Linked DNA regions of Homo sapiens. The protein of the gene in region 1 interacts with the protein of each later gene in a biochemical or structural test. Each region holds a gene or a part of one and is shown in the gene's direction. Other genes may lie near its edges.

Region 1 (3,500 bases):
CCTGGGAAAAGAAAGGAAGAATAGAGAAACAAGGAGATGATGGGAGCTGAAGGGTTATTATGGGCAAGGTGGACCACTTCAATTTTATGAAATTCTTACCGATTTATTGGTTTCTTTAACAATATTTTATTTATTTATTTTATTTTTTCAGAGACAGGATCTCACACTGTCATCCAGGCTGGAGTACAGTGGTGTGATCATAGCTCACCGTAACCTTGAACTCCAGGGCTCAAGCAATCTGTCCATCTCAGCCTCCCAAGTAGCTAGGACTATAGGCACGCACCACCATGTCTGGCTAATTTTTTTGATTTTTTGGTAGAGACAGGGTCTTACTATGTTGCCCAGGCTGGTCTCGAACTCCTAGGCTCAGGTGCTCCTCCCACCTCAGCCTCCCAAAGTGCTGAGATTACAGGTGTGAGCCACCATGCCTGGCCAATTTTGGGAAAAAACCAAAAAATTCAAAAGTGACTTATTGTGGAATATTTAGAAAATTCAGAAAAGTAGAAAAACAGTCACAAACTTTTTTGAAAGACAGAAAAGAATAAATGAACAAAGGGAATGAGACTGTATTCTTGGGTTGCAAGATATGACTATTTTATTTTTCCCTAGTTATATAAATGTAATACAATTTCAGTTAGCATCTGAATGGGTTGAGGGGATTGGGATTTTTATCTTAAAATTTCCATGGAAAAATTCATTAAACCTATTATAAAGCCCCTGATAATCAATACAGTTAAATAGGAGGAAAAGCTTAGAGGGTATAGAAGTAAATCATAATATCTTTAGAAATATAATGGAAAATAAATATGTCATTTGAATTTAATGGGGTAAAGATTATTTAATAAATGAACCTGGCACAACTGGCTATTTGTCTGGAAGGAAATAAAGTTGGATTCCTACACCCTACAAAGTCCAAAAATAAATGGATTAAAGCTTTTAAGTAAAAACATGAAACAATAAATACCTTGAATAGAAATTGTGGAGAGTGTATTTTCAAAATAACTAGGGACTGAGGGAACCTGTTAAACCAAGATCTAAAACCCTAGAAATTTTAAAAGAAAATATACCTGTTTGAAAATGTAAAAATTTTTAAAATTTTTTTCTAGCAAACAAATTAAGTAAACAAAGTTGAAAGGTGAAATAGGCTGGGAAAAAGCATTCTCAATGCTTTGGACAGATAAATGGTCACACCGTAATGTTCAAAAAGCTCTCCGGAATTGGTAAGAAAAGGGCGAGCGTCCCAGTGGAGAAGTGGTGGCATTCACTCTGGAGTCTTCCTGCTGCCGAGGCCTGAGGACAAATGCGGGCAGATGCCTGTCTCCCTCTCTTACCTTTGAAGCTGCCTCTGGGTGTATTTTTTTTTTTTTTTTTTAACTGCTTTGCTAATAAGAAAATGCTGTGCTTCCCGCACCAGATTCTGGTTCTAGATGTGCTTCCAGAATTCTCGGGAAACCCTTTCCTGTCTCCAGAAAACCCTGCCCTTCACACCAGATATCCTCGTTGGGGTCCCACTGTGGCATCATCAGAAGATAGGGGGTAGTCCGGTGAGGCCTGGGAGGAATCTGTCACAGAAACCAGGGGCGGTGATCTGGGAACTAACAGTGGTCTCTGAGGGCCCCTGTGCTTCCCCACCAGGTCTGGATTGAGGCTGCATTCCTGAGGCAGGAGGGAGTGTCCCTGGAGATTTTTGAGCTGGGCTCTGGCATGATCTGCTGCTTCTCAGACACCCCCCGCCCAACCCCTAAACTCCTGAGCTCAGGCAGGTGGAGCCCACCACATCAACTGCACTCACCCCTGAGAATTTTGTTTTTGAATGCAGAGTGGAATTTAGCTGACACAAAAGAATTTGAGAGGGGAGTGCGGAATTAATGGCACGGTGTAGCCTGTGGCTTATGTGGTTTCTAATTCAGAGGTATGTGGATTACGTGAGTCTGTAACATATGCTGATCTAATTAACCAAGTTAAAAGGTTAAAAATCCACTTCAGCCTACATACCAAGAATGGGTCTAATTGGAAACAATATTTCAACAACAGTCCCCACGAATGCCTAATTTACTGGTAAACACTCACTCTAATATTGATGATGATACTCATTCTCTTTTCCTCTGTTCATAAAGTGATCATTGCCTGAGTGAAACAGTCACGAGAGAGAGAGCGAGGGAAGAAAGGAGGGAGGGAGGAAAAAGTGAGGGAGTGAAACATTAGGAGTTGGTGAACATTAGTTGATTGAGTGACTGAGTCCACAATTCCAAAAACGTTCCTAGAAGACTCAAAATCTATTTAACATGAACTAAAGAGCCTTTATAAAACTTTATATTTGAGCAATAGATGAGGCTTAAAAGCAAGTCTAAAAGACAACTGCCCCAGTACTCAACCCAAAAAACACAAACTAGCCAGACACAGTGGTGTGTACTTGTAGTCGGAGCTACTCAGGAGACTGAGACAAGAGGATTACTTGAGCCCAAGGGTTTGAGACCAGCCTGGGCAATAGCGAGACCCAGTCTAAAAAAAGAAAAAAAAACGTCAACAACAACAAAAAAACCCACTCGTTCATCAAATCACCTGCAAGGCGCCTGAATGAAAGGTGTCCTTTCCACTGTGGCTCTGCTCAGGGCACCCACAGCTGCAGGTGAGTTAACCTGTCTGGCCCTGCCCCCTCTAGGTCTGTCCTCCCATGACTCACCTGTGTGAGAAAATCATCTCCACGCTGCCTTCCTGGAGGAAGCTCAATGGACCCAACCAGCTGATGTCGCTGCAGCAGTTTGTGTACGACGTGCAGGACCAGCTGAACCCCCTGGCCAGCGAGGAGGACCTCAGGCGCATTGCTCAGCAGCTCCACAGCACAGGCGAGGTGAGCCCCTGGGAGCCCAGGCAGGGGGCCGTGAGAGGTGCCAGGGACTCAGCCTGTCCCAAATTCCAGCTCTTGGAAGTGGTGTGAGCCTGGGGAAGCAGTGTGGAAATGGTCCAGCTAACCTACAACATTTCCACACGTGTGACAAACACAGCCTCAAGTGACGCTCTGAACTGCAGTTCTCGGCTCACCTTAGGAGCTGTCATTTTGTCTTGTCGTGTTTTGCTTTTATTTCCAGAGTCTGTTAGTTTGGGAGTGCAGTGCCCACTGCCCTGGGTGACTGGGTCTCTCTTCACTCCCCCTGGGCACCAGGAACTTAATCTGCTACTCCTGGCAGCCTTCAGGATGGCTTCTTTGTATCAGCGTGGAGTCATCAGCTCCACACAGATCTCCTGGGTGGGAAAACAGTTGAGAAAAGGCAGTGAGGTGTCCTTGTGGAGGCAATGTCTGGAGATACAAAGACAGAGAACTCTGGTGCACAGATACACAGAGTAATCATAATTAAAGATGCACATTAAAAAACTCTAGCAAGCAATGCCCAGCAGAAATGATTGAGAATGGGAGGCTTTGCTCTGGTTCTGTGACATTGAGCACCAGGGCGCGGTTTGGAAACCCTGTTCTAATGGCATCATATGCCTGTCCCAGGAAC
Region 2 (3,500 bases), on another chromosome or scaffold:
CAGCTTCAGTTACTGAAGGCCAACTCCTTTTGGTCCTTCCCCACTTTTTTTTTTTTTTTTTTTTTTTTTTTGAGATGGAGTCTCACTCTGTCGTCCAGGCTGGAGTGCAGTGGCGTGATCTTGGCTCACTGCAGCCCCCACCTCCTGGATTCAGGTGATTCTCCTGCCTCGGCTTCCTGAGTAGCTGGGATTACAGGCATGTGCCACCAGGCCCGGCTAATTTTTTCTTTATCTTTTTTGAGACCGAGTCTTTTTCTGTCACTTAGGCTGGAGTGCAGTGGCGCAATCTCGGCTTGCTCCAGCCTTTGTCCGCTGGGTTCCAGCGATTCTCCTGCCTCACCCTCCTGGATAGCTGGGATTACAGGCGCACACCACCACACCCAGCTAATTTTTGTAATTTTAGTAGAGATGGGGTTTCGCCATGTTGGCCAGGCTGGTCTTGAACTCCTGGCCTCAGGTGATCCACCCACCTTGGCCTCCCAAAGTGCTGGGATTACAGGTATGAGCCACCATGTAATTTTTGTAATTTTAGTGGAGACGGGGTTTCACCATGTTGGCCAGGCTGGTCTCAAACTCCTGACCTCAAGTGATCCACCCGCCTCAGCCTCCCAAAGTGCTGGGATCACAGGCGTGAGCCATCGCCCTGGCCCTTCCCCGCTTCTTACACATCATGACTTCATAAGCAAGTTCATCTCTGGTTCCCTATTTTAGGACATTTTTGCAGCTTTCTGAGCTCTTCTAGTTCTTAGGAACTGTTGATGAGTAAGATTCTGAAAGATGGGTACCTACTTGGATCATACCTGCTACATACATGCCAGCCCAGAGTGAAACAGACTTCAGAGCAATAAGAAAAAACCCTTAATCTGTGAAGCCTATTGCCATTTGACTTTAGTGGTTTCTTTTGGGAGGTTTCCTCACTGTTTAATAAGCTATTGTTGTCATGGAAACATGTTCCACATGGGCAGGTAGGTATAACTAGATTTTTTTCCTGTGTCAGTCACTTCTTTCTGAAGATAAATTGTGTTTTCTTACTACTTTGATTTCCATTTCTTTTTTTTTTTTGAGACAGAGTCTTGCTCTGTCGCCCAGGCTGGAGTGCAGTGGCCCGATCTCGGCTCACTGCAAGCTCCACCTCCCGGGTTCACACCATTCTCCTGCCTCGGCCTCCCGAGTAGCTGGGACTACAGGCACCCGCCACCACGCCCGGCTAATTTTTTGTATTTTTAGTAGAGACAGGGTTTCACCGTGTTAGCCAGGATGGTCTCGATCTCCTGACCTCATGATCCGCCCGGCTTGGCCTCCCAAAGTGCTGGGATTACAGGCGTGAGCCACCGCACCCAGCCAGATGATTCCCATTTCTTTAAAAAAAAATTGTCAAAAGAACAAACTGGGCCAGGCACGGTGGCTCACACCTGCAATCCCAGCACTTTGGCAGGCCAAGGCGGGTGGGTCACCTGAGGTCAAGAGTTCGAGATCAGCCTGGTCAACATGGTGAAACCCCGTCTCTACTAAAAATGCAAAAATTAGCCAGGCCTGGTGGCAGGTGCCTGTAATCCCAGCTACTTGGGAGGCTGAGGCAGGAGAATCGCTTGAACCCTGGAGGCAGAGGTTGCAGTGAGCTGAGATAGTGCCATTGCACTCCAGCCTGGGGGACAAGAGCGAGACTTCATCTCAAAAAAACAAAAACAAAAAAAAACTGGCATTTGTGTTTTTGGACATGCCTTCTCTTTTTCAGATTCACATTGACATTCCAAGGACGAATCCTCTCATTCCGTTGTTCCAGCAACCACTTGTACAGGAGGTGAGGGAATTACTTAATGTTCTTTGGCGCTTCTCCCCGCATAGTTCTGTGGCACCTGTTTACAGGTTTGCGGCTAATCATAATAGTACCTTATGTTCATATATGCAGCTTTGGTTCCTTCAGAGCATGGTTTCATACATTTTCATTTGATCTTTGTTACAAATCTGTGAGCGGAATAACACTTTGAAAGGCTAAGGAACTTGCTCAGAATTTTGAGGCTACCTGGTGGCAGAATGAAGAACCCACATCTTAGAATTCCTATTCCTGTATTTGCTCTACTTTATCAAGCTGGAAGTAGTGATTTTTTAAATTGTGGTAAAATATACATAATATAAAATTTACTGTGTTAACCATTTTTTAGTGTACAGTTCAGTGGCATTAAGTACAGTCACGTTATTGTATGACCATCATCACCATCCACTTCCAGAACATTTTTCATCTTCCCAAACTGGAACTCTGTATCCATTAAATATTAACTCTCTTCTGCAGCCTCCATTCTATTTGTCTCTAAGAATTTGACTACTCCAGGCAGCTCAAATAAGTGGAATCATACAATATTTGTCCTTCTGTGACTGGCTTATTTCACTTAGCATAATATCTTTAAGGTTCATCCCTGTTGTTGCATGTGTGAATTTCCTTTTTTAAGGCTGAGTAATATTCCGTTGTACATATGTAACACATATTGTTGAGCTGTTCATCTATCAGTGGACACATGGGTTGCTTTCACCTTTTGGCTATTGTGAGTAATGCTGCTGCTAGTATGGGTATGTGAATATCTGTTTGAGTCTCTGTTTTAAATTCTTTTGGGTATATATTTAGAAGTGGGAGTAGTAGTTATATTTTGAGACCTAACAAGTTAATGAAGTACATGGAAGGTGTCAGTGGGGCTATTATGTTTTGACTCAAGCAGTAACTGTAAACTTCTTAAGATTAGGGATTTCCTTTGCAACTTTACAGTAGCCAGGACACTAAGTACTAGTGCTCTTTTAACGGAACTTTCAGTTCTCATAGTAGAGAGGGATGGTGGTTAAAATGCTGAAAATAATTTCTATTTGACTTTGGGTTATATTTATAATTTTGTTTAAATATAGATGTCTCCACTGGTGGGGTCCCTCATGTCTTACCCATAGCATAAAGAAGATTTTGAAGGTAACATCATTATTTTAACTATAAGATTCAGCTCACAGGAAGCTAAAAACCCATTCATGATCCCTTTATCCTCCCATACAGTTTTCCATGGCTCAGCACTGCTTATTCCTCATTTTAACTTGGAGATGTTCAGAGACTTTTCTTTTACCTGTGCATGCTTACTCTGAATTTGGAGATGAGGAAAGTAGTCAGTTTAAAAGGCTTCTCAGCCAGGCGTGATGACTCACTCCTATAATCCCAGCACTTTGGGAGGCCAAGGCCAGAGGGATTGCTTGAGCCCACGAGTTTGAGACCAGCCTGAGCCTAGGAGTTTGAGACCAGTCTGGGTAACATAGCAAGACCCTGTCTCAAAAAAATTACAGAATTAGCCAGGCATGGTGGTGTGTGCCTGTGCTACTGTGCCTGTGCTACTTGGGAGGCTGAGGAGGGAGGATCTCTTGAGCCCAGGTGGTCAAAGCTGCAATGAGCCATGATCGTGCTACTGCACTCCAGCCTGGGTGACAGAGCAAGATCCTGTCTCAAAAAAAAAAAAAAAAAGAGGTTGGGGGGT
Region 3 (3,500 bases), on another chromosome or scaffold:
TGCATATACTTTTATTGTTTGAATTTTTTTTATTATACATGTATTCCATTTCAAATTAAAAAGCCTACTTAAAAATACAACAGATCGCTATAAAGCAGTTAGAAATAGGTCCTCATGTTGAGTGGGAAAAAGAAAACTTGCAAAGAGATACATACAGTATGACATCCTTTAGGTCAATTTTAAAAATATAAAGCAGTTGTTTGTGAATGTGTACATGTGCAGCTGAAGTATGAAAACACACATAGGAATGGATACAGGTTCAGAAAAGTAGTGGTTACTTCTGGAGAGAAAGAAAGAGAGGGCTGTAGCTGCATCTAATAGTTTCTTTGTTGCTGTTTTCAAAGTTCCTAAGCAAATACGGTAAAATGTGTTCACATCAGTAAAATTAGATTGATGCTACCTTTTGTGCTTTCCTACATGTTTGGAAATTAAAATATTATGTATGTAAAATTGTTTTGAATACATTTCTATTAATTGTTTTTAGTACTCCTGTTGTATTCAATTGTGTCAGTTCATTATTGAATTGAGTCATGGTTTCCAAAAGTCACAAAAATTCTCCTTCTTTTTACCCCTCTCAATAGGTTGGCAGTGGCAATGACCCCTGGTCAGCCTGGAGTGCCTCCAAATCTGGGAACTGGGAAAGCTCAGAAGGCTGGGGGGCCCAGCCAGAGGGGGCTGGAGCCCAAAGAAACACAAACACTCCCAACAACTGGGACACTGCCTTCGGCCACCCCCAGGCCTACCAAGGACCAGGTGAGGAGAGGGGTGCAAGGTCCCACCCTGCCCGCCCATGGCTGAGTGGGAGAGACAGGGAAGACCGAACTGTTTTTGCTGTTCCCACACTCAGCACAACACAGAACAGTTTTGTGACCACAGCATGGGAAGGGAGGATTGCCCCACCCACCAAGCAGCTGTGCAGCAGACACCAGCTGAGTGTCCTACAGTCATGACACTGTCTACCTGGAGTCAGATCAAGGGGGTTCCCACCACTCCCACCTTGGGTTCAATTAATCTGCTGGAGCGGCTCACAGAACTCAGGGAAACACTTTACTTACTACTGTCAGTTTATTACAAAGCTCAATTTACAGGATGCAAATAAAGAGCCAGATGAAGAGATGCATAGGGCGAGGCATGGGGAAGGGACGCAGAGCTTCCATGCCCCCCTGCCCCAGGTGCCCCTACATGTTCAGCACCCCAGAATCTCTTTTCCTGTAGCTCAAGGATTTTTACGGCGGTTTCATCACATAGGCATGATCGATTATTGTTATTATTATTCTTTGAGACAGAGTTTTGCTCTCGTTGCCCAGGCTGGAGTGCAGTGGCACAATCTCGGCTCACTGCAACCTCCGCCTCCCAGGTTCAAGTGATTCTCTCACCTCAGCCTCCTGAGTAGCTGGAATTACAGGAGCCCACCGCCCACCGCCACACCCGGCTGATTTTTTGTATTTTTATTAGAGGCAAGGTTTCACCATGTTGGCCAGGCTGGTCTCAAACTCCTGACCTCAGGTGATCCACCTGCCTCAGCCTCCCAAAGTGCTGGGATTACAGGTGTGAGCCACCATGCCTGGCCGGCATGATTGATTATTAACTCAACCTCTGGCCCCACTTTTCTTTCCAGAGAATGGGAGGTGGAGCTGGAAGTTCCAAGCTTCTAATCCTGGCTTGGTCCTTCTGTTGACCAGCCCCCATCCCACCAGGAGTCACCTCATTTGAACAAAAGATGCTCCTACCACCCGGGAAATTCCAAGGGTTAGGAGATCTGTGTCAGGAGCCAGGGTCAGAGACCAAATATCAGAACAAAAGATACACCTTGCACACCTAACATTCAGGAAGTTACAAGAGTTTTAGGAGCTCTGTGCCGGGAACTAGGGACGCAGACCAGATGGCTATTTCTTACCTCACAATACCACTCTGGGTCATTGAGTTGAAAATAGATTTTATTCAAAAGAACTGCTTGCAGTTGCCCTTATTCACTAGTAGCAAACCTGGATTCAATTGTAGATGGTCATTAACTCTAACTTTAGTTCAGTCTTACTTATCTGTGTGAAGTCACAGATTCAAACGCTGGGTTGGTAAAGTAAAAGCAGAATGGGCGGTGGAGGCTGCAGAAGGCTGAGGGCCCCTGCTGTCGCCCGTGGATCACTGCATTTGCAGGGAAGCTGAGCCCACGTTCTGATCTCCACATCTTCAGAGAGATGAGAAGTCTTGGTTATTTGTCACCTTCTGATTTTAACATCTCAGCAGCTAACACGTTTGTTTTAAAATCTTGAGCCAGAAACGTGTATGTGGATGGGATGTGGCTCATCCTGCTGGTTTAAGACCTCTGCATTCACTGTTTTAACTTCCTGTTTGACTAGGCTATGAATAGAAATACTGAGGCAGAAGAGAAATGTGTGGAATGGGAAATAATTTGGGAATTAAGGGTATTTATGTCTGATCTGAAATTAAATAAGAAGGTAGTCTCCCATTATTTTTTAACAATTCCTGAACCCTGTCTCCTCTGTAAGCACATTGGGCCAAGAATTGAATGTCTGTTCTAAACAGCAAGGACCTCACTTGTAAGCCCAAAGCAGGGTGCAGGTCCCGGCTGAAGGCTGGCAGTCATAGACAGGAGCTGCCTGTCAGCAGGACCAGGGGTGTGGGCTGGGTAGAAGCGTTGGGAGACTCCTGGGGTCTGGCTCTCTGGTCACTTGGCCCACATCCTTCTCATAGTTTGTTCTTCTCCCATTTGGCATTTGTCTCTCGGCTTCTCCATAATGGCACTCTTAGGACCTGACACTAAAGGACACTCAGGCCGTTAGAGTAGGGGAGGAAGGAGAAGGAGGAGAGCCCACAGGGGAGGAAGGAGAAGGAGGAGAGCCCACAGGGGAGGAAGGAGAAGGAGGAGAGCCCACAGCACCTTATCTGACACGGGGATTATTGTCAGAATAGTAGCTACTGATGCTGCTTAATTACTTCTTCACTCTCATCTTTTTCTCCCACACCCCAACTCGGTCTTTTTAATGTCCCCCTCGTTGCCCTTCTCTCCCCTTTATTGTTAGTGTTAAACAGCTGCTTTTCAAAGTTCTGTCGTCCCTTTCGTCCTCCCCAAGCCTCTAGAATTAAAGGGTATTCTGCTTATTTGTAAATGTATAAGACTAGATTTATCAGTGTCTAGGCCTCTAGAAGTCTTTTCTACTGTGTACCACTTAACATTCTTACAGTCTGCATTTATCTGAAGTGATGTGGACTGACAGCCCTTTAAAAAAATTATCTATATTTTCACGCCTGTAATCCCAGCAGTTTGGGAGGCCGAGGCAGGCGGATCACAAGGTCAGGAGATCAAGGCCATCCTGGCTAACACGGTGAAACCCCATCTCTACTAAAAATAGAAAAAAAATTAGCCGGGTGTGGTGGCAGGCGCCTGTAGTCCCAGCTACTCGGGAAGCTGAGGCAGGAGAATGGCCTGAACCCAGGAGGCGGAGCTTGCAGGGAGCCAAGATTGCGCCACTGCACTCCAG
Region 4 (3,500 bases), on another chromosome or scaffold:
AAAATTTTAATGCAGTAAGCAAGCCTGCTGATCTGGCTGCTACTTGAGTTTTTGATTCTTTAGAATTTCTTGGAAATGTTTTTTTCTAGGACAGTAATTGAACATAAAATATTAATGATTGTGAACATTAATAATGTGTTAATACTAATTATGAACATTAATGATTAGTGATATAAAGTGTAGAGACATTAATGACTGAAAGATAACTCCTCAGAGAAGTTAATATAAAGGTAGGTGCTGATTGGCAGCCAATTTAGTTGTGAGGTGGCTGTTAGAATCTAGTGTTCAAGTACTTCTGAAAAAAAAATATAAATCTAGTTTATAAGCCCCTCCTGAGGACTTGAACCATGACTGGTCATTAAATGTGTATAGGTGTATGTGAATTACTATACTCTGTCATACCCTACCCTCAAGTGATTTTGTTATTTTATTTTTATTTTTTGAGATGAATCTCTGTTGCCCAGGCTGGAGTGCCCAGGCTGGAGTGCGGTAGGATGATCTTGGCTTCCTGCAACCTCCACCTCCCGGGTTCAAGTGATCCTCCCGCTTCAGCCTCCTAAGTAGCTGTGATTACAAGTGTGCGCCACCACCCCAGGCAATTTTTTTTTCTTTGAGAAGTCTCGCTCTTGTCCGCCAGGCTGGAGTGCGACGATGTGATCTCGGTTCACTGCAACCTCCGCCTCCTGGGTTCAAGCGATTCTCCTGCCTCGGCCCCCCGCCCAGAGTAGCTGGGGTTACAGGCACCTGCCACCACGCCCAACTAATTTTTGTATTTTTAGTAGAGACAGGTTTTACCTTGTTGGTCAGGTTGGTCTAGAACTCCTGACCTCAGGTGATCCAGCCGCCTCGGCCTCCCAGAGTGCTGGGATTACAGGTGTGAGCCACCATGCCGGGCCTCCCCTAAAGTCATAAAGGAGAAAATAATGTAATTATTACATAGGTTATTAACTAGGCTAATACATACTGAAAGATTGCCGTGTTAATAATGGAGATTCAACAAACTGCACAAAGTAACTTTTTTTTCTGTCTTCTCAGTGTTTTAAGTGGTAGATAGCAGCAAAAAGGTCAAGTTACAGTTAAGTCTTGAGACTTTGATAAGCCACAGACTGAACTCTACCTACATGTTAAGTAGTTAAGTTGGCAGTATTGATGTTGACTTAATTGCTATTAAAACTATATCTTTTGCCCTTTGAAAAACCCAGGGCATTTGGATTTGCCCTAAATTTAAGCACATCTGGTTTTTAGTTTAAATCCTTTTTATATTTAGATGATTTACTTGTGAGAAGACTTAACTGTTTTTAAGTATAAGTGAGCATTTCTAATGCACTAAAATAGGATTGCTTTACAAATCAGTTTTGAATTCCTCTTTAGAAACCCTTGTGGAGTAAAGTGAGGTACTATTTACAATTAGATTTGTTTTGACTTCAGTCCATTTAGCAACTTACATTTGAGCTTTATTTCAATCTTGACCTATTCTTATCGGAGCCTTCTGGACCAAAATGCTTTTTTTATGGATTTTAAAATCAAATATCCTGGCAAAAATGACTATGGATATGTAGTATTGCTTAAATTAAAACAGAGAATTGAAATAATTTTATTGTACTTTAAAAAACAAAGTTGTTTATTTCCTAATAATTTGAGCCATTAAAGAAAAAGCTAAGCATCTGCTCATTGAGAATGCATGCTCTTAATGTTGATGAAATATGATCGTGTTATGTAATGCAACTAAAAGGCTTGGTGGGTTTTTAAATTCAGGCTTATAAAGAGTACATGAATGTTTAGCAAAGAGAAGAAATACAGCTGTGATAATCAAGTGTAAAATCCATTTGCAAATCTTACAGGTAATATTGAATTGAATGATTAACTGCCTAGTTTTCTTTATCAGTTCATTGGTGCTGAACTGGGCCCTAGGCTATGCAAGATATTTCAAAACCAAGTCTTAATTTTAACTGAAGAGAGACCTCATTTGATATTATTAGATGTAATCAGTTGTGATATAGAATAAAGGATGTTTTAATAGATGACATTTAAAATTGTTATATTCTTTGTGAATATAATAGGTTTAGACTCTAGTGACTTTGGTAGGTGAAAGATTAACTAATGATCACTTGCGTAAAATGCAAAAATAGCCTGACAGCTTTTTAACCACTAAGTGACCAAAACTGATAGCCAGAAGTGTAGTGTTTTTAATACTTTTTCCTGAAGGCTTTCTGCACTTCATCTTTGCAGTTAGTAGTATTCTTTAAAAAGAATGCTGTTGTTGTGAGGGTAACATTTCTTTCTAGAACGTTGCAGTGTGTCTGTGCTTAGAATTTTCATTGCAGCTGTTGTGCAGAACTTATGTGTTCAGTGTTTTAAAATAAAAACATTCTTAACTATTTTATAAGTAAAATCTTTCCTTGAGGCTATTACCTGAAGCCTTCTTTGACATTTAAGATCTCTTGATGTGTTTGCTTTTCCATGGGTTGCAAGAACTATTCTTCTGCAATGCAGAGGGCAAGATTATTTTGCATTCACCTTGTCATAGAAAAAAGCTGTAATGCTTAATTTGTTTCCCTTTGCTTGACTGTGTGTGTTTGTATGTGTAGCACTGGGAAGTATTTAAAGCTGTGAATTCCCCCAAGTGATAATGGGTACCTTTTTCTAGGGTGAGAGTCGAAGCCTAAGTATTACATTGAGAATGTATTGTTTTAACGTGGCCAAATTAGTGTACTCTAGGATACTACCCATGTGGCAGATATTTGAGAATGCATTTTGTGTGACTTACAGATTAAGCATACAATTTGCCAAAATTTTATGTAATTAATTTCCTAGTTTACATTTAGGGCTAGATGAAGACTAGTACTGTTTCATCTTTTAGAAAAACTAACACTTTTCCTTTAGTAAAAGTGTTAATTTTTGCAATACTTTTGCAAAAGGTTAAACTTATAGCAATTTTGTCATAGCTATAATCTTACACTGTTATAAAATTTAGAGGATTTTTAATTTTTATTTATTATCATTATTTGAGACAGTTTTGCTCTCGTTGCCCAGGCTGGAGTGTAATGGCATGACCTCGGCTCACTACAACCTCCCCCTCCCAGGTTCAAGCTATTCTCCTGCCTTAGCCTCCTGAGTAGCTGGGATTACAGGCGCCCGCCACCACGCCCGGCTAATTTTTTATATTTTTAGTAGAGATGGGATTTCACCATGTTGGCCAGGCTGGTCTCAAAACGCCTGACCTGAAGTGATCCACCCACTTCAGCCTCCAAAGTGTTGGGATTATAGGCATGAGCCACCATGTCCGGCCTAAGAGTTTTTTTTTAGAGCTTAAACCACCTTAGAATTTAGTCCAGTTCATTTTATAGAAGACAAAATTGAGATGTTTATATGGAATGACTTAGGTTGGAATGGGTGATTTCCAAAATTCTCGCAGTTTTTTTTGAAACAGAATCTTGCTCTGTCGCCCAGGACTGGAGTGCAGTGGTGCAATCTCAGCTCACTGCAACCTCTGCCTCCTG
Region 5 (3,500 bases), on another chromosome or scaffold:
AGTTTAATGCAGCCAAGTGTGGTGGCTTACGCCTGTAATCCTAAGACGCAAGAAGGCTGAGGTGGGAGGATCACTTGAACCCAAGAGTTCAAGACCAAGCCTGGGCAACATAGTGAGACCTCATCTCTACAAGAAATGAAAACACAATTAGCCGGTGTGGTGGCACATGCCTGTAGTCCCAGCTACTTGGGAGGCTGAGGCAAGAGGATAGCTTGAGCCCAGGAGGTCAAGGCTGCAGTGAGCTGAGACTGCACCACCACACTTCAGCCTGGGCAACAGAGTGAGACTCTATCTTAAAAAAGAAAAACTTTAATGCTAGATATGGCCTGTGACCAGAGCTTACCACTGCCTCCATCCAACCCTGGGTCTCCCTGCCGTCACCACCCCCTCTTCCTCATCCAGGGAACCCAGCCCAGGCCAAATTTCTGTGCTCCTCCCCCTTCCCCCATCCTCCACTTAGACTGGATTATTTTGTCCTCCTGATCACCTCCCCCACCCCAACGCTCCACCGAGTGCCTCAGACCTCCTTCTTTCCCAGCAGACTCCTGAGCCTGCAGGACTTTCCCTGAGGACCGAAGAATCAAACTTTGGAAGCAAAAGCCAGGACCCAAACCCCCAGTACAGCCCAATCATCAAACAGGGGCAAGCCCCAGTCCCGATGCAGAAAGAGGGGGCCGGGGAGAAGGAGGTATTGGGCTGCAGGGGCTGAGGGAGTGGGAGGACAGGCCTGCGAGGGGGTGCAGGCAGCGGGGAGGAGGAGGGGCCTAGCGGGGGCAGAGGCTCAGGCTGGGAGTTAGGCTGGGGCTTTAACCCTGCCTCCCTCACCCCACTCCTCCCTGGCCTCACCTTCTCTCCCAGCCCTCCCAGCTGCTCAGGCCCAAGCCTCCCATCCCCGCCAAACCTCAGCTGCCCCCAGAAGTCTACACAATCCCTGTTCCACGACACCGCCCGGCCCCACGCCCCAAGCCCTCCAATCCTATCTACAATGAGCCTGATGAACCCATAGCTTTCTATGCCATGGGCCGGGGCAGCCCTGGGGAAGCCCCCAGCAACATCTATGTGGAAGTGGAAGATGAGGGCCTACCCGCCACCCTTGGGCACCCTGTCCTACGGAAGAGCTGGTCCAGGCCTGTCCCAGGAGGCCAGGTAAATGGGTATGCAGGGAAAGGTAGGTGCAAGAAGGTCTCCCTGCAGGTAGATGGGGGAAGGTGAAGAAGGTGTTCAGAGTGGATGCCTGGGGCAGGGTAAGGGGCAGAGGTGTGAGGTGATGTGGGAAGAACAGAATGATCCAGGCACCAGCCTCCCTTCTCCAGGCCCAGAGGCTGCCCCCTCTTCTCCCCAGAGTCGCTCAGACCTCATCTTTGTCAAGCCCCCATGCCCTCCTATCTCACACAGAAAACAGAGGCCCCCAGGCAGGGTGCCCCTCCACCTCCCACATCGAGGCTTTTTTGATCTGCGTCCATCTTGTCCTGCAGGCCCTCTTCAGACGCACCTGGGGCTGACCCCACCCCGTGCCTCTCTGGCTCTCTCCCTTGGCCTTCACGGCCCTGCTGTCCTGGAGAAAAAGAGCACTTGGGTTCCCTTATGTCATCTCAGTGAGCTCAGGGGAGGGGGACCCTGCTCTCCCAGCCTGCTTCTGTGTACTCCCTGTCTCCCTCTTCCTTCTCCCCAGCCCTAAGTCTTCTTGCCTACCCTTCAAGTCAGTACCTCATGCCATGGGTTAGCCCCAGCAGCCATCCCACCCTCTCCCTCGGCCTCTGCGGCCCTCCCAAAGCCCTTCCCCAGCCTCCCTCCTCAGACCCTTCCCCATCCTCCCTCCTTGCTGGTGCCCCAGGCTCCCTGCTCAGCCTGAGCCTGCTCGCGCTCACCCACACCCCTGCCAACGTCTGCTGTCCTAGAGCTAACGTCACCTGTCCATATCTCCGTCCAAACTTTTTTCCAAGCTTCTGGTCAGTTCCCCCCAGCATCCCTGAGCCCCTCAAACTCAACACGGCCAACAGCGCTCTCACCCTTGCCCTCCAAACAGCTCGGTCCCATGTTCACTGTCCTGATTGCTAACTCTCCAGCTACCCAGCTAGCCAAGCCAGAATCCCAGGGCTCCCTCAGCACAGCTCCCTCTTTACTCCCCCAGTAAGCCACTCATTCCTGCTGGATCTCTTCCTAAGTATATTTTTCCTTCCCCCAGCTCCAGCCCCCATCATTGGGGTCTGGCTTTGTCACCCAGGCTGGAGTGCAGTGGCACAATCATAGCTCACTGCAAACTTGAACTCCTGGGTGCAAGTGATCCTCCCACCTCAGCTGAGATTACAGGCTCGAGCCACCTCACCTGGCTCCCAAGAGCTTCTTAACTGGTTTCCTAACCACCATTCTTGCCACTTCTGATCCACTCTGCACCAAAGAGCCAGAATGGTCTTGCTGAAGCAGCTGCCTGGCCCATGAAGCACTCTAGACTTGGGTTGGGTGGGGGGTCTCACCTCCTTAGCCTTACCACCAGCCACTCCCATTCTCCTAGAATGATTCACATTTCTCTAAACTCACCAAGTGGTTTCAAGCCTCCTGGGGTTTGCACCCGCCAGTATCTCTGCCTATAGCAACTTCCTGCAACCTCATCCTCCCGCTGCCTGGCAACTTTCTAATCATCCTTCAAGACCAGCTTTCCCTTCTCAGAGGCCACCCCCTGTGCCTTACACACACCTGCCATGCCACTGATCACCTGAGACATCCATCTCCTCCCATCTCCTTCTCTCTGTCCCTTCCCTAGTTTAGAGTGTGAGTTCCCTGAAGGGAGGGGCTGGGACTTACCCATCTGTTTCCAAAGCACCCAGCCCAGTGCCTGGCACAGAGCAGGTGCTCAGGAGATGTTTGTTGAATTAATGAATGAGAGGAGTTTAGATACCCTCTCTGGAAGCCAAAGTCTGTTCAGATCAGATGTCTTGAGACTGCAAGTACACCTAGGAGGCAGAGGGTAGAGGGTGTGACCTAGAACTGTCCTTCTCTCTGCAGAATACAGGTGGCTCCCAGCTGCATTCTGAGAACTCTGTGATTGGGCAAGGCCCTCCCCTGCCCCACCAGCCCCCACCCGCCTGGAGACACACCCTCCCCCACAATCTTTCTAGACAGGTGCTTCAGGACAGAGGACAGGCATGGCTTCCCCTTGGGCCTCCTCAGTAGGCGGTAAGTCTGAGCTTGGTGAGGATAACTTGGAGCATCAGGTCCAGAGACCTTCACACACACCTGGCACACTTCTCAAGAAATGTGGATGGAATAAACCATAGGTGTTCAAAGCTGGAAAGGAGCTCAGCCATCATCTATTGCAAGGATGGCAAAGAGGTGTCATCTTGCATGCCAACTCCAATCCATTGGTCGTGGCTGCCTAGAGTGCTGCATTGGAAAGGATGTTAAGGTCATATCTGAACTCAGCAGAAAAAAAGCACATGATTGATTAGTGATGTCTGCCACGGGTAAGAGCGGGAGGATGAGCAGCATTACATTTGTCCTTA
Region 6 (4,119 bases), on another chromosome or scaffold:
AAAATCCTAATATGTGGAAAAAAGCATATGCATAAAGGAATAATATTGTGAAAATGAATCTGTTATGATAAAGAAAAAATAAAGTGGAAACTTTTAGAGTATTACTTCATAGGGCAGATTTTGTAAACTGTCGTATACTGTAAAGGGTTAAATCAGCGTTTTGTGATTTTTAAGTAACTGTGAGTGAAGTTTATTCTTCAACAATGTCTACTCCATCCCCAACCCAACTCACAGCCCTATGACTACTATCTTTGCATTAGTTAAAAAGTTAGTATATAGGCATCAAACAACCTTGGCTGTAACCTATAGAATCTCTATCCACGTATCAGGTTATAGACTGGTTTTTCAAAAGTGAACAATCCTGTGATAAGTTGGAGTACCATTTAGTAATACAGCAACATTGTGTCATTTATTAGCATCATAATTCTTTGTTATGTAAGTTAAATATATCAAGAAAGAAGAGACTGTTTGGAAAAATGTGGTTCAAGTTTTATGCTATATAGTTTTGGTATGCGATACAGACAGCTAACTTTTCTTATGAAAAATACATATTTGCATGTAAACAATGATTTCAAAATACTTGAAAAATAAAATTTTAACCCAAATGAATAACTAAGAAATATAAAACAAGCACAAAATCTTAGGGAAGTCATAAAATAGTAGTGAAAGTATTAGACAGAAGACATCTGTTTTCGAATTTCAACACTAGAATGACTAAAACTATCTACCTATAGAACTATCTGTAGATAGTATACTATCTACACTCTGCTCAACAAGCTCAGAAATTAAATATTTTTAATAATAAAAATCTGTTCTGGTTATAAACCTTGCTAATGAAAATACAATACATATAAAAATGTATAGCCATGTTATTTTCTAGTATAAATTCCTTTGAAACTATAAGTCTTTGAGGAAAATTATAAGGTAAAATTTTCCTGTTTTTCCCCCTTTGAAAAACTCAGGAAAAAAGGAAGATTGAACTAATAAAATTTTATTTCTTAAATATAAATTTGACCTAAAATATTTTCTCAAACTAATTCATGAAACAGCAACTTTTACCAATACCTTTGTATACTCTCAGTTCTCATTCAGTATAAATAAAATTTTAAAATCCTTTCATAGTTCTATTAGAAATAAGTAGTAAATTTTGATATATTGTACATACACACGTGTGTGTGTGTGTGTGTGTGTGTGTGTGTGTGTGTGTGTGTATTTGTGTGCCTCTGGTCAACTCTAAGGATGACAGACACTGTGTAACAACACCTGGGTCAACTCTTTTAATTTATATACAAAGCAAAGAACAACATTAATGGAGATGCACAATGATTATTCAAACAAGCTATATATATGTACAAAGGCAAACAGACACATAACAGTCTCTGCAGACTGATTGTATATAGTAAGAAAAGATCAAAAGACTTTAAAACCTAAATGACTTTTGACATACAAACTCTTCTTGAGAATGTTTGTTGTAAATGGTTTCAAAAATACAAATTATAGCCAATCAAAACATTGCTTTGGTTGGTGCATTTAAGTATCCAACTCAAAAAGCATATCAAATATTTTGGGTACTAGGCAGTTTCCAAAGTAGCATGGTAGTATTACTTGTTAAAAGGGTTCTGTTTTCATTAACAGTACTAAGTGGAAGGGATCTGCAGATTCCAAACTGGAATAAGCTCTATCATATTCTGAAACAAGAATTAGAATGACTTGAGAACGGGCAAATAACAAAGCAAACCAATATAATTATATGGTCATTCTGACCCCAGCTCTTATACAAATTATACATGTATTTTTGTGTATGTTTGTGAGAGTTGTATGTATGTGAATGTGTGTGAGTGTGTATTCACATACACATATATACTGGAACCTATAGTAGAAAAGGAAACTAGTAGGGCCAAAAAAAAAAAGAAAAAGAAAAAGAAAAAAGAAAAAAAAAGAAAAAACTGGGACCTAAGTATAAATATCTCATCCTAAAGTAAACAATAAGTTTATAGTTAACGAAGATTTTTTTCTATTTAAAACCCCATTTTCCTAAAGAACAAAGTAGTAAAATAAAAAAAAATTTAAAAAATTAAAAAATAAAAAAAAGAGGTCACTAAAAGACCAAGATGGGAAACGTAACATGGAATACAAGCTTGAATCTGGGAAACAAGCTCAAAAAACAGTGAAAAAAAAAGTACTGGTTTAGGAGTTCAAAATTCAGTGAAACAAACTTTTTGCCAATAGACCTAGGGATCTAAGAAATAGAATTAGGGAGAGTTTACACTTACTTACCTATATATCAGCAGATTTTTCTGGAAGAAACCCTTTTTTTTTTTTTTTTTAAACAGTAACATCCAGAGTGACAAATTGCAGGAGATTTAATGTATAAAATTTCTAGGAATTAAAAGCTTAAACCCAAAAATTGTTCATCCATATATAAGAAATTATCGAATTAAAACTTAATGTATGTCAATTATTTTCAAATGTCTAAATTCCTTTGGAAATAAAAATATCAGTTTTACTTTGAAATTGCTCAACTTCTGCTATTCATATGGTCTGATTAGTGACATAAGTAGCAGCCGTTTTTCAACTTCAGTTTCATTCACTACCATTGTTTCCAAATTATCAATCTCTGCTAGTAATTATGAATTTAAGACCATATTATTATCAAAAACCTAGAGACCAATCATATATCTGAAAAGAAATACCCATTAAAAATTCTGCCTCCTGTTTATTGAGAACTATGCATTGAACATTCTGAATCATTCTAAGCCTCTGGAGAGACTGTAATGATCCATTCATGAGCTGGTATGAAATCAGTGGGAAGCAGAACAACAGAAGGAACTTTAAAAGCAACAAGCAATTATGTACCATATATACACTGTAGCAAATATTTTATATTTGAGAGTCTTTACAGCTTACATTTCCATTCCATTATTACAAGTGATGAAAAACAAAAAATTGCAAGTAGTATGCAAATTATAAATATACAGTCTTCCCACTTCACTAACCAAATTCCTACTTTCCAGTGTTACTTCCCAATTTATGCAGGAAACCTCCTGCAAAGCTGAAACTGATTAGAAAATTCTTTATATTTTAAAATAGCTCTTTCTCATTTTTAGAGAAGTCAAATAGCCAACCATCAAAATTAAGAATAAATTGAATTGTCACAGTCCATTACAGTTATTGTTGCTAGATCCACCTCATTTGCAGATGTCCAAACTTAAATTCATCTGTTCTTAAAATGCTACTTAAAACTTTGGTTGTTTTCCTGTAATATAAAAGAAAAAGTTAATTTATCAATTGATTGAATACAGTTTTTACTAATTAGTTTATCAAACCAAATACTGTGAACGTACCAGGTGTTTACAGATTTAAATGCATGTTACCATAGAAACTATTAAAGTAACTAGAACTGTCAAATAACAAAACGGCTCATGTTTTTAAAATATATGTAACTCATTTTAAAATATATTAAATTGTATTCCAAACCTGTTCTTCTGTTTCTGTGGCACCTAGGTTTAAAATATGTATTAATGTGTAAATCACAAGTAAAATGAATTCTAATGTACAAGTTTGTTTTAAAAAGTGTATGTCAAGCTTTTATTTACACAATAAAATGTTATTAAAGATGGAAAGTCTACAAATGAAAAAGTGACTATAGTTTATATAGCACTGAAGTTTACATTTATTCTTACAGACCATGGATTACATATCCCAAAGATCTTTGAACCGGTGGGAAAGTTGAAACATCAAGTACATTTTTTCTTATTTAATATTTATGCATGAGAAGTATTATAAAAAATTTTAATTCCTGCTTTAATTAACTTTAAAAAGAATTGGCTAGAGATCTAAAGTTAGGGAGTTTAAGAAATATTAATATAAACTATGAACAACATAATGTTTTTTAAAAATTATAATTTGAGGAAAAAAATACTATGAATTCCAAAGAATTAGAATACCAAAAATGGAGATAGAAGGTAGTAGTGTTTATCTCCCATTCGAACTGTTCTCAGTATACCTATATTCTGAATCTCATTTCAGAAGAGTCCTAGCTGCCTTTACCTATATAAAGGTATTTACGAAAACTCTAATAGGAAGTTAAATTCCAGTCAAATGTAAGTAGAGACCACA
Region 7 (4,001 bases), on another chromosome or scaffold:
CACCTAGGACACAGGACACGACAGCCACTATGCATTATTCATCTCCGTGTCCCTTGCAAGCCCTGCATACCTCAGTTAACATTTGTTGAAGTGCCAAGAAAGGACACACAGACACAGGGAGAGAAGGTCAGTTACAGAAATGGAGGGAGTCACAACTCCTTGTCATAGCCCAGGGGTTAAGCTTGTGGGGTTTGGAGTTAGTCAGACCCTGGTTCAAATCCAGCTGGGTTCAGCCACTTGCTAACTGGAGAACCTGGACCTCAGTGCCCCCATCTCTAAAATGGAAATAACAGCACTATTTTACCGCAGCAGTTCAGCCATCTCCGGGGGCGGTAACAAGGCCCCCAAGCAGCGCACATTCCCATCTGTGGGATAGGCTAGGCAGGGGCTGGAGAACACATGTGACCTGAAGAGGAGGTAGGTGAAAGTGCTGAGCCCAGCCCCCGGCCGCGGCAGGAGGTCAGCACCGTTCAATCTGAATCCTGCTTCCTGACACAACGCAAATGCTCAGCAGAATTCGGAAAAGGGTGTGTGTGTTCTATCTGCGGATTATCCAGGACTTTTGAGCCCTCGCCGCCCTTGGACATATAGGAAAGCTGGGAGTTGCAAGGGCGAAACCGAGGTCGGAGTTTGAGAGGAGGGGTCACTGAGTGAGGAAGCAGCGCTGGCTGGGTCTCCCCCGCTCCCCCGCCCCAGCAGCCCTCCCGCCATATATACTTGAGCTTTACTCAATAAGAAACCTTTTCAGAAAAGGATAACGTCCCCAGATTGAGAGAGCCGGTCCTCTCCTCTGCCCTCTCCCCCTCCCATTTAATTGGGACGCCCCAGAAAGTCGCAGCCCCTTTGGCTAATCCCCTGGTTCCCTATTCCACTCCCATTCCACTCTCAGACCCCGCCCCTTCACTCCCACCCGCAACCTCCGCTCGATCCAGAGCCCCCCGGTGGAGACAAGGAACACAGGGACCATTCTTAACCCTTGGGGAGGATCTTCGCCCGTTGGTAAACGAGGACGCGCTCCAGCCAGACGAGCCCCAGGCGCGGGGTCCCCGGGGCTCCTGGCCGCGCCGTCGGAGCAGCCGGCGCGGCCCCGCCCTCCCCGCGCGCGGAGCGGCCGGGGCGGGGACTACAAGTCCCGGCGTGCCGCGCGCGCGCTCCCCCCTGGGGTTCCGGATGGTGAGCGGCGAAGGTAAGGCGAGCTCGCAGAGGCAGCGGCGGCGGCGGCGGAGACGGAGAGAGGCAGGCAGGCAGGGCGAGGGCGAGAGACGGAGGGAGGGAGCGAGCGAGGCGGACCAGACAGACAGACAGGCGGGCGGGCGGGCAGAGCGAGCCACCCGCCAGGCTGCGCTCAGCCCCGCTCGCAGCGGAGAGAGCAGAAGGCAGGAGGAGGGAGGGGAGGAGGGGGAGGGAGGGAGAGAGGGAATCCAGCTACCACCACCCAAAGCCAGCGTCTGCTTTCTGTCCTCATTTCCTTTTCCCACCCAGCTTGGAGAGCAGAGAAAGGCAGAGAGAGCGAGAAATAGAGACAGTCTGAGAGACAGACAGACAGCCAGAGAGAGCGGGAGGGAGGAGGGCGGAGGAGGAGGAGCAGGAGGACTACGCGGGGCGCGTTCCCTCCCAGGTTTGCTATTGGGGGGGGTGGGGGCGGGGGTGTCCAGGGCTGGGAGAGTGTGTGCGCGGCGGGAGGGCGAGGGGGGCGCAGAGAGAGCGAAGGAGTGATCGAGGTGGGGGGGCGCCGCGGGAGCGGGGGGCCGTGTCCAGCGGAGTTAGCGGCGGAGAATGTGAGCCGAGGCGCGAGCCATGCTGTCAGCGACGGCGGGCGGCTCAGGGCTCCTCCACGACTCCTCTCCTCAGCAGCCGGGCGCCCGCGTCGCTGCCACCGCCGGAAGACAGACGTCCCCCAAAACCCCTCGCCTGGCTCGGACCCACGGAGCCGGCAGCCCAGCACTCCGGTGAGTGGCGCCTCCTCCCCAGCCCCAGACCCCCGCTGGGGACCGGCCGGCCAGGCTCTTTTGTGCAGCGCACGGGGGGGGCCTGCGTCCCCCGGTCCGGTCCGCTGGACCCGGTGGCTGCGGTGCCCGCGGTGCGATCGGTCTTTGTTTCCACCGGGGCCCGCGGCTCGGCTGGGCTCGGCTCGAAGCCTGGCAGGCAGCGCCGGGAAGGGGGAGGGGGAGGTGGACGGGGAGGGGGGGCGGGGAGGGGGGGTTCTCGGGTTTCCTGGCCGCCCCGCGGCTCCCCCGGCTCGGGGGCGAGGTGCGCGCCCAGCGCTGCCGCGCGCCCCCTCCTCCTTCCCCCTCCCTCCGCCTTTGGATTTAAAACTGCAATTTGCTCTCCAGCTTGCTGAGAATGTGGGGGGGGGGGGAATGAAGGGGGGACCGTGGGAGCGGAGAACAAGGCTGGATTTTAGGATCGGCGCTGGGAAAAGGGGAGACTGCGGAGGGAGGAGCCCCTCCCCTCCAACCCCCAAATCCCTAGGATCCACTGGCTCTCGGGGAGTTGAGGGGCGGGGACCTAATGACCCGGAGGGGGTGTGGGGCGGAGGAGGGATTTGGGGGCGGCTAGGGCTGGAGGGGTTGGGCCGCGTGCCCGGTTACCTGGCGAACAAAGTCGGCTCACTTTTGCATAAATAAATAAATAATCGCCTATCAATGCGTTTCCTCTGGGGCTCTGATTGAATCGGCCCCCTCTTCCCCAGGGGGTGGGGTGCTGAGTGACAGCTGTCAGCCCCCTAGGCAGGGAGCTGGGGTGAATTGCTGAATCTCTGCTCGCTGCTTGAGGGCGCCTTCCCCTGCTGGGTCTGGGTCCCCGGGCAGAGCCAGAGGGGCAGGGGGCTGGCTCTGAGTCTAGGAAATAACCTTGTTTCCTGTTCTACAGGAAAAGGGACAGCAACCCAGAGTTTGGGGGCTGGGGATGAGGACTGATGGGAGCTTGGGGGGGTTCCCCAGCAGCCTGACCCCCCAGCCTCCTGCCAGGCGAAGGGGCCAGCTGAGGGAGGAAGGATGTGGGCCTTGCTGGCCGGAGGCGGGAGCTGGGGCTGTCCCTGAGGCGGGCAGCGGGCACAGAGCGGGAGGAGGGAGAGAAGCGGGGGCGGGAATTCTCTACCGCAGACCCTGGGGGCCAGGGCCAGATGTGGAGGGGTGGGGAGTCTCCCCTCCCTCCCAGCTTGGGGGCCCTGGGGCTGGGCTGGGAGGGGCTGAGCCTGGTGCCCTCGGTTCTGCACCAGTGCCTGACTGGCAGGGCCAGCTGAATTTGGGCCCAGGCGTCACCCTGGGAGGCAGGGCCGGACTGTACCAGCCTGGTCCCTGAGCACAAGGAGGGACCCTTGGGGGGCCTGTGCCTGTCTGGCTGGGCAGGCGTTTCCCGCCGGACCAGTTGGTGTCAGGCGGGACTTGGCCCCAGCTCCCTGGGCAGAGCTCAGGGTGTGAGGACAAGCTTTGCCTCCGGGTCAGGGTGGCCACATTTTGTCCGCTGCTGCTGTCGCCGCCGGCTGGGCGGGGGCATGTGCCCGGGCCTGGGCAGAGTCCTGCCAGGGGCATTTGGGGTGTTTCTATTGTTGGCTTGTTCCTGTTCTGTGTGGCTGTGTGAGCTGGGGCTGTAAGTGAAAGATTACCAGTCTGTCCCCCAACCTGGGGTGGGGGGGTAGGAAGGCTGGGTTGTGGGGGGACCCCCCAGGTGGCATGTGCATGCTGCTTGCCATCTCCCTCCTTTGAGCAGATGTATATTTATTTTTATAGTAATGGAAAATCAAACTGGATAGTAAGTTGAATTCATTTTTTTCTCCTGCTGTGTCAATAGTTGGAGTAATCCCCAGAGACTGGTGAACTTCTGGCCCCAGAGCTCCCACTCTTCAGGGGTTGCAAAGACCAGTAAGGGCATAAGCTTTGGGGGACCAGTGGCTACCAGCCCAAACCAGTGAGTTGTCCTTCTTCATCTGGCTTTGGGGCAGATGCCCAGGTGGGCAGGCATTGCCCCCTCCCCAGGAATCACCCACAAGCCCAAGGTGT

The links.
Region 2: the proteins of DAPK1 (region 1) and TBC1D22B form a complex in vitro, tested with the Homo sapiens proteins (one large-scale study listed by BioGRID and IntAct).
Region 3: the proteins of DAPK1 (region 1) and SNX9 form a complex in vitro, tested with the Homo sapiens proteins (one large-scale study listed by BioGRID and IntAct).
Region 4: the proteins of DAPK1 (region 1) and CAPRIN1 form a complex in vitro, tested with the Homo sapiens proteins (one large-scale study listed by BioGRID and IntAct).
Region 5: the proteins of DAPK1 (region 1) and SH2D2A form a complex in vitro, tested with the Homo sapiens proteins (one large-scale study listed by BioGRID and IntAct).
Region 6: the proteins of DAPK1 (region 1) and NECAB1 form a complex in vitro, tested with the Homo sapiens proteins (one large-scale study listed by BioGRID and IntAct).
Region 7: the proteins of DAPK1 (region 1) and AHDC1 form a complex in vitro, tested with the Homo sapiens proteins (one large-scale study listed by BioGRID and IntAct).

What each region holds. Positions count from the first base shown.
Region 1 is NC_000009.12:87,700,367-87,703,866, forward strand, and holds part of DAPK1 (death-associated protein kinase 1), read left to right. Parts: intron 1-2,662; coding exon 2,663-2,851; intron 2,852-3,500. UniProt on the Homo sapiens protein: Calcium/calmodulin-dependent serine/threonine kinase involved in multiple cellular signaling pathways that trigger cell survival, apoptosis, and autophagy.
Region 2 is NC_000006.12:37,285,272-37,288,771, forward strand, and holds part of TBC1D22B (TBC1 domain family member 22B), read left to right. Parts: intron 1-1,735; coding exon 1,736-1,801; intron 1,802-3,500. UniProt on the Homo sapiens protein: May act as a GTPase-activating protein for Rab family protein(s).
Region 3 is NC_000006.12:157,896,246-157,899,745, forward strand, and holds part of SNX9 (sorting nexin-9), read left to right. Parts: intron 1-581; coding exon 582-753; intron 754-3,500. UniProt on the Homo sapiens protein: Involved in endocytosis and intracellular vesicle trafficking, both during interphase and at the end of mitosis. Required for efficient progress through mitosis and cytokinesis. Required for normal formation of the cleavage furrow at the end of mitosis.
Region 4 is NC_000011.10:34,054,731-34,058,230, forward strand, and holds part of CAPRIN1 (caprin-1), read left to right. Parts: intron 1-3,500. UniProt on the Homo sapiens protein: mRNA-binding protein that acts as a regulator of mRNAs transport, translation and/or stability, and which is involved in neurogenesis, synaptic plasticity in neurons and cell proliferation and migration in multiple cell types.
Region 5 is NC_000001.11:156,806,849-156,810,348, reverse strand, and holds part of SH2D2A (SH2 domain-containing protein 2A), read left to right. Parts: intron 1-541; coding exon 542-688; intron 689-858; coding exon 859-1,146; coding exon of another isoform or gene 1,147-1,212; exon of another isoform or gene 1,213-3,003; coding exon 3,004-3,171; 3' UTR 3,172-3,174; exon of another isoform or gene 3,175-3,500. UniProt on the Homo sapiens protein: Could be a T-cell-specific adapter protein involved in the control of T-cell activation. May play a role in the CD4-p56-LCK-dependent signal transduction pathway. Could also play an important role in normal and pathological angiogenesis.
Region 6 is NC_000008.11:90,955,775-90,959,893, forward strand, and holds the end of NECAB1 (N-terminal EF-hand calcium-binding protein 1), read left to right. Parts: 3' UTR 1-3,232; coding exon of another isoform or gene 3,233-3,256; 3' UTR 3,257-3,619; downstream 3,620-4,119. Other genes in the region: uncharacterized protein C8orf88, read right to left, coding at 3,233-3,256.
Region 7 is NC_000001.11:27,601,345-27,605,345, reverse strand, and holds the start of AHDC1 (transcription factor Gibbin), read left to right. Parts: upstream 1-1,201; 5' UTR 1,202-1,240; intron 1,241-1,482; 5' UTR 1,483-1,618; intron 1,619-1,851; 5' UTR 1,852-1,949; intron 1,950-4,001. UniProt on the Homo sapiens protein: Transcription factor required for the proper patterning of the epidermis, which plays a key role in early epithelial morphogenesis. Directly binds promoter and enhancer regions and acts by maintaining local enhancer-promoter chromatin architecture.